2 linked regions of the Homo sapiens genome follow. The protein of the gene in region 1 interacts with the protein of each later gene in a pairwise test. Each region holds a gene or a part of one and is shown on either strand. Other genes may lie near its edges. The genes, in order: CA3 and HPCAL1.

Evidence for each region.
Region 2: the proteins of CA3 (region 1) and HPCAL1 interact in binary tests that used the Homo sapiens proteins (3 or more experiments, as listed by UniProt).

The regions. Positions count from the first base shown.
Region 1 is NC_000008.11:85,437,021-85,440,929, reverse strand, and holds the start of CA3 (carbonic anhydrase 3), read right to left. Parts: upstream 2,072-3,909; 5' UTR 2,021-2,071; coding exon 1,987-2,020; intron 1,219-1,986; coding exon 1,021-1,218; intron 1-1,020. UniProt on the Homo sapiens protein: Reversible hydration of carbon dioxide.
Region 2 is NC_000002.12:10,301,351-10,305,259, reverse strand, and holds the start of HPCAL1 (hippocalcin-like protein 1), read right to left. Parts: upstream 2,357-3,909; 5' UTR 2,083-2,356; intron 1,561-2,082; exon of another isoform or gene 1,318-1,560; intron 1-1,317. UniProt on the Homo sapiens protein: May be involved in the calcium-dependent regulation of rhodopsin phosphorylation.

The sequences.
Region 1 (3,909 bases):
CTAATAGATATGTTTAATTTTGTTATGTTGCTTTCAAAATGGTACTTGATATATAAGGAGAAGGGGAAAAAAGGAAACAATAGCAATACGAAACCACTGTTTAAGAAAATTTAAATTTCTGTAACTTGGAACCTCCTGGTAGGTAGGAATTATGAATATCATTCTTCATTACAAAATCATTAAGAATGTTCATTTATGTATATCAATAAATATAACTTTATTAGAGATGGGGCTATAAGGAATTATTTTGCTGTATATCAAGCACCAAAATATTAAAGGAAGATTCTTTCTTACCTCATTTATCGTGAAATAAAGTATTTCTGACTAGTCTTCTTTTATTATACTGATTTGCTTACTAGTGTAGGTGAAATAAAGAGATTTGTTTTTTCTAAACATGTATTTTTCAGTCGCTGTCTCACACACAAACTACTACTCAAGAAGAAATTGTCAGATATTTCAAAAATACTCACCCAAATGATTAATCAGATGAACCCCACTGAAGGCTTGAAGGCAAGTCATCTTGACACCTTCAGTGGCCCTGTTCTCTCCCCTAGATTGGTCACCTCCCAGGCACCAAGGGAAGAAAGTGCCTATTTAGGGTTTCTATTGTATATCTGGCTTTGTAGAATGGAATCTATGCAATTGAGAGTGGAAGCCTGGCTCTCCAGACCATGGACAAGAAGCACAAGAACCCTCAGGTATAGGCCATCGGAGTCTGAAGAATACTCATTTGAGTTTATTGTCATCTCTGTCCTATCGTGTTCCATTTCAGGAATGCATTGCCAACTTTTAGCTTGGACATGGGGCCGTTTTCACAGAGACCAAGTTTGGAGGGTGTGACATTCCTCTTCAATACATAAATATAATTATTCATGACTAAAGCAAAGTCAAATGTCATCTGCATTTTAAAAGATAAAGTGCTCCCTCTCCCCATTAATTCTGGTACTGTGTCATAAACCACATTTTGTCAATATGGACCTTGAAAACATCCATGTGATTCTACCTCATTGTCATACTTACTTGACCTATCATAAGTATCATCAAATACAACTCGGCAGGTCTTCCCATTATTCAGGATGGTCTTGGCAGAGCCACCATCATAAGACACAGACCATGGCTGCAGAGAAGGGTCATGCCTGATGTCTTTAGTATGCAGCTCAACGGGCGACTGGTTTTCCCCCTTGGCATTTGGGAAAAGTTCATGCCAGTGGTCAGGACCTAGGAAATAAAGTCGAGGAGATGTATTTATTTGGTGGCACAACCCAAGGCCTCTTTCTAATTGACTAAACCAGCAAAATACAGAGAGGCTAGACAGTGATTTCAAAAAGGTCTTAGGTTTCAGACTGGGCAATAAGAGACTTAGCATTCATTTCAGGCCTGTTGGTAGTTTTGTGAATAGCACACATGGAGACTATTTAACTCAGTGTGTTCACTCTGCCTGCTCAAAGGCTTATTTTTCAGATAAACTTTATCACATTTTTTTTTAACCAATGACACCTTCCATCATAGAGTTGGAATAAAATAATATTGACCACCTACATTTGAGCATTGTGTTGTGGGTTTCAGAGCACACCCATGTTCCTTTGCCTTGGATTAGGGAGAAGCTTAGGCAGAGCAGAGATTCTCACACCGGCACCAAGCTCAGGTTAGGTGCTTGTCCAGTAAAACAGAATAAGGGCCAGTCACACCTGACCTCGGGCTGTCTGACTTCTCAGAGGCAATGGGATCTTAGGCAAGTGATCCAACTTCTCTGCACTTCAGTTTTCTCCAAGGGAAATAAAAACTCCATACTAGGGAGAACCAAATGAGATGAAGGAAAAAAAGAAGCAGCAGCATTTGGCAGTTGAAAAGCCTCAGTAAATGTTAGGTCTTATTCTACTCCTACATTTTCCACTGCAGTCTCTAAAGTTGCCCATTTCTGTGCAATGGCAGGGCTCTCCTGGACTGGCATCCCTTCCTGGCCGGGTCGCGGCTGCCTGCACTCACCGTTGTGACTGGCGTAGCCCCACTCCTTGGCCATGGTCGCCTTCCTCCGTGCTGGACGGCTCCTGCTTTCTCTTCCCCTGCGTGGTGCAGAGTCGCCGCGAGCCCGCGCTTTTATGTAGCTCCCCCGCACACTGCATGGCCTTATTAGGTCAGCGAGGGTGGGGCGGGGGGCTAAACTAGATTGGGGTGGTGTTTGGGAGGCCGGGTAGAGGAAGCCAATGAATTCCAAGAGCGGGACAGCTGTCGAGGTGACGGGGGCGGAGGTGGGCGAAGGGGCACCCACGCCCCTCCCTGCGCTCTCCCGGGAGTCGTGGCTCCTGGCCCCTCCATCTCCTCTTCTTCTCTCTCAAAACTGCAGGGTTTCTAACCGGCGCCGACGTGCAGAAATGCAGGCGGCCCTCACCTCGTCCTCTCTCCTTCCTCCATGCATTCTTGGGGATGGGGTGGGGGCAGGGACAGGGTGTCGTAGTTGTGCTTGGCCACGAACTAAAATCTACATCCCGGCGGCTCTTGCAGCCTCACTTAAAAGTTGCTTCAAGCGCAGGCTGGCTGTCTGGCTACGATCTCTGGACACTTGTGCGAGTTTATTTCGCTCTAGCGATCCGGTTACAGAGGCTGGAAAGAACTCGTTTGTTTGCCTGCCCCCTAAGTTTGACTCCCTTTGCAGGCAACATGTAAAATCCTAGGAGCAAAGGATGGGAAGAAAGGGTCCGGAGCAGGGTGAGAGGGTGAAGAGGCCCTCCAAGTCCGTTATCCTTAAAGAGATGGCCCTTTCTGGAATCGCACCAGGCGGCATTTCCCAACCTAGCGGATCCTTTTGGCTTGCAGGAAACCGAGGGCTGGATCTCAGAGAGCGCCAGATATCCAGGAGATGTCTGGATCCCAGGTTCACGCGGAGCTGGAGACTGGGACTGATTTAGCCACACTCCCTGAGCTGTACCTCTGTTCATGAAAAATCAAGAATATTCTGAAGTATTGGAAGGCCACTAACATAAAATGAGTCATATTTCTTAAAACCTGTGGTCTTGCTCTCCAAGATACAATGAGAGATTGCAAGAAAAGAAAGAGGGAAAGATTTACAGAATGGCTTTTAATTTTTTTCTCCCCCTACTAAGTTGTTTTCTTATACATTGAACCATGCAAAGGAGAATAAAAGTGGCATATCTAGTGTGTCTACATGACAAAAGTATATTTTTAAATGTCTGGTTATGGTTCATATCAAAGAGGTCAGTAGTAGATATTTACAATTTTAAGAGTATATTGTAAAATTTCTCCTGTTTTAATTCAGTAATAATTTTTTAAGACAATGAGGAAAGATAAACCTAATTTCAGTGCTATCTTGAACAATATTTCGATATACATTTCCTTAATTAACTTTTATTGATAATAGTATTTAGTATTTGGGGATTACAAAACTCGAAAAGGAAATCGCTCGTCATGGCACAGATAGCTCATCCCTAAGGCATGTGGAATGACTGACCACACTCATAACCTGGACGCCAGGGGAGTCATTCCCCAGGGTATTTTTGTGACAAGGGATTATTTGATCCACACAATAGCAGTGTGGAATCAGGAACTAAGGCAGTTCGGAAAATCCAAGCAAACATAGTAAACAAATGCCCTTAAACTCTCAGCTCCTATCTGTCACTGTTTGATCAGAAAGACTGCAGTGGTTAATGGAGATGTTTTGTAGTTCTTATAAAATGTATAATTATTTGTATGAGTAAACCAATCCACTCAATCATTACAATATTCTTTTTCTGGTATGAGTGGTTAGAAGATTGGCAAATAAATTTCATGTTATTTGATATAGTAATCATACAGAGAAGACAATAACATTTATACCAAGAACGATCTAGAAATTCATCATGTTGTTATTATTTATGCATAGAAGGATACCTTTTTTAAAAAAAGTGCTATTTA
Region 2 (3,909 bases), on another chromosome or scaffold:
CTGAGAAAGCCAGACTGATTTTTTTTTTAATATTATTATGGAACCTGATTATGAGGAAAGAGTAGGATTCACACCAAAAGCCCTTTTTTCTTGTAGGACATAAAATCATTTGATGAAACAGAAAACAGGGTGCATTCTAAGTGTGCCCCTGTCACTAAGTCAGGATGAAAAATGAGAAAATGAGTTCATCGCATCCCCCTGGCCTGCCATGGCTAGGATTGCAGGGCTTCAGTCTCGGCCGAGGGAAACCAAAGGAACCGGACCAGGTTTCTATCCCTGGCTCCTAAAAGCCCGCAAAGCAGCCCGCCTCTCTGGGAACACCATCACGTAGCCCCTGACAGTTGGGAAGCGCATCCATACCAAAAGGCCGCCCATGCTGTCCCCTCCGCAGCCCAACCCCATGCCGGCGCTCCATTTTGAGAGCCTCCTGCACTGGTGAGATCTTGGCTCCCTTGGTTAAAGGCGATTTTTTTCCCCCAGAGAAAGACACCAAGGCGATGAAGGGAAAGAATATCCTTCGCTCTGGCCGAGAGCCACCCGACCCCTAGAGCTGGCCTTGCTGCGTCCGAGCCAGCGCCGAGGCGCCAGAACTCTCCAGAGAGTGAGTCGTGGTAAGAGCTGGGTGCTCGTTCACTGCGGTTCAATTTTACGACTAGTAGGTTTCAAAAGTAAATGTTTTAAATTAAGGTGTGGGACTAGGAGGAGGTGTCCCATGTGGCACCCCCGGCATGAGGCTGGCTGCAAGGGAGCAGGGATGGCAGGGGCTGGGGCTGGGGGTTGTCTAATGCCGAGGCCAGCAGCTGGACTCGGCGTCCCTGGCAAACATCCTCCTCTGGTGGAATTGGGGTCAGCCAGGAGGAAAGGGGTGGCCTTTGGCGGCCGGGACACCCCGGGAGCCCGAGATCTGCATGTGCGGGAAGCGCCAATTTTACGCCGTGACTCTCGGACTCCACGAGCTGAGCTGCATCCTCCCGGACTAGGAACTTGTTGAACCAAAGGGTTCTCAACTCCGCAGTCGCTGCCTCCCGGCCAGGAGAGGGACCCCCACGCTTGCGCGGGAGCCTGGGGGCTGGGGCAGGGCCGGCGCCCAGCGCGGCGCTCTCGGGCACTCGCGGAGGCGGCGCCGCCCGGGAGGTGCTGCAGGAGGCAGCGCAGCTGGCAGCTAAACTTTCTCGAATCTCAGTGCTTCGCGGTTAAGTTAGGGCCAGGGAGAGGCACAAAACACGCCCGGGGAAAATGTAAGGCCCCACCCACGATAAAGGGGAAAAAAAAAGGATTTTAAACAGGAGACGCTAATCCAATTAACACAGTACCTACTGTGTGCGGGGCTTTGGACCAAGAGCTGTCTTCAGTGCGTTCTCATTTCACCTGTCACCACAGCCCCCAAGGGAGGAGCTGTCCTCATTTTAAAGAGAAGCAAACCGCGACCGGGGAAGGTGGCGCGTCTGGCCCAGGTCGCAGTGCGGGTCGCGGGGAGGCCAGGGCTCTCCTCGTCGCCCCATGGCCCTGGGAGGAACGAGCGGATCGCCTCCGCGTGGGCCCCCACCCTTGGCAGAAGCTCACAGGCGACCCACGTGGGCCGCACGGACCTGTTCCCTGAGGGCTGCCCAGCCTGCCCGCGAGGCCCGCCCTTGCCCGTCGGGTCCCAGCTGTCCTCGAGGCTCCTAAGCTACGCACTGCGCCGACCAGCAGGGACAGGGGGCTCTGGGCGTGGGGCTGGACCACCCACACCCACCCCGCCACCCCGCTCTGCGCACAGCTGCTCACACACGACACCCGCCAGGCACCGCTCCCCACCAGCAACTGCGCCCCGACACACAATTCCACAAACGCAGTCCAAAATGTGCACACCTAAGGCACACATGGATGCCCACGAGTACACGCCATTCGAAAGACACACCACCGTCCGCAGTCACCCACAACTCCACCGCGCAGAGAAACGCGGGCACTCCCGGACACACACACGCGCGCACAACACACACGCAAAGAGCCGGATCGCAGCGCTCGCCGGTGCACACGCCGGGTGCACACGCCCGGGGCACACTTCAGCAGCCAGCAGACCGCAGCCCGCCCCTTCCCTACCTGCTCCGGCGCAGGACGCGGTCCGCCGGCTTCCCGAGCCCAAGTTCGGCGCCGGCGGCGGCTGCAGCGGGCCCGGGCCGCTGCCCGGGACAAGCGCGCCGAGGCCGGGAGGAGTGACTAGCAGCGCGGGCCTCCGTGCGCCCGCAGCTGCTGCGCCGGCCCTGCGCTCATCGCCGCCCAGAAAGACAAAAGGAAGCCGGCAGCCAGGGAGGGAGCAAGGTGGAGGCGCCCGTCAGTCCGCCCGTCCGCTGCCCGCCGCCGCCGCGGCCCGCCTGCCAGCTCCGGGAAGGAAGGGACGCGAAGGCGGGACCTGGAGGCGGGACCCGGAGGCGGGGGCCGGGGCGGGGCGCGCGGCCAGAGGCGGGCGCTCAAGTTTCCTACGGCCCCGCCCCCTCCGGGCCCCGCCCCCTCCACGCCCCCTGCCGGACCCTCAGCGCCCGGCTCGGCCCTCGCAGCCCCTGCACCTCGCTGCTCCTCGGCCCTCGCGGCCCAAACCTGGCCCTGCCGGGTCCCAGCCCCCAGTGGCTTTCGGGACAGGGGCGGAGCCGGGCACCGGTTCTGTTCCCCTAACCCTTGGCCTCTGGCCTGCTGGTATAGAAGAGGCCGAGAGGCGGCGCCCGGGAGGGGCCAGCCCTGCGCCCGCGCCCCCCGCCCCCACGCCGCAGGAAGTGGCCCGGGCGGCCTAGGAAGGGGAAGAGCCGAGTTGCCCCAGCCCCGCACCCCCAGCCCCAGCCCCGCGTGCAGCTCGCACCCCTTCCCACGCCTGTTCGGGGGAGAGCCCCGGGCCTGGAGTGGGAAGCCTGGCTCCAGCTCTGGTTACCTGCAGTGACTCCCCAGGCCGTTTAGGCGAGTCCATTGGGCCGCCTCTGCCTCGGTTTCCCCACCTAACCACGGAAGGTGCTCCTCCCTTCCAGGCATCTGTGGTCTTCGAGCTCCACGCGGGAGAGGCGCCGGTCTGGCACCTCCTGCCCAGGGTCGGCGCCTCCTGGCTCTCGGGGAGGGGGGCATCCTCCATCCCCTGCACCTGCCTCGAGAGGAACCAGGGACAGAGCACCCCCACCCCCACCAGGAGCTCCGGAAAAACGGCTTCAGAAGAGCAAATATACACACACACCCACCTCCCGCCCCAAACATCCCCGAAGAAAGGTAACCACAGAAACAGCCAGAAATGTGGAGCTGGGCGATCGTATGAGGCTGAGACAAAACTGTCTTTCTAGCGTCTCTAGGGGAGAGCTTGAATCCCTCCTTCCACTCCTCCTCCACGGAAAACAGAGTGAACTCCTGCTACAGAGGCCGCCAGAGCAACATGCAAGACCAGCTTTGAGGGGAGCGGGCACAGGGCCTTGCAGGGAAGGTGGGCCGAGCCCAGACCCCTCATTCTTACTTGGCTCTGAAGGCGGAAAGGCAAAGCTAGACCTCGAGGAAGTTCCCCTCCCTGTGGGCCCTACAGTGAAGATTACATGAAGGCATGTGGGCGGTGGACCAGAGTGCACCGACTGATGAAGGCGGCCCGGTACCCGCGGGTGCCATGCCTCCTTCTTAGCCAAGGCCACTCTAGCTCCCCGTGAAGTATCCAGGTAGAAGGCTGGTGGGGTTACAGGTGAGAAGCCGTCGGTGGGGTCCAGGAGCCAGGCCTGGGGAAGCACACGTCACTTCCACCCACATCCATGGGCCAGAAGTAGTCGCACAGTCCCACCAGGATGCAAGGGGCTCTGGCAGCTGTGGTCTTCATGAGTGTTTCGGAAGTAAACAAAGCCGGTTTGATGAACACGTAGAAACATCCCTGCCACAGAAACTGAGCAGATTTCTCCCAAGCACACACAGGGC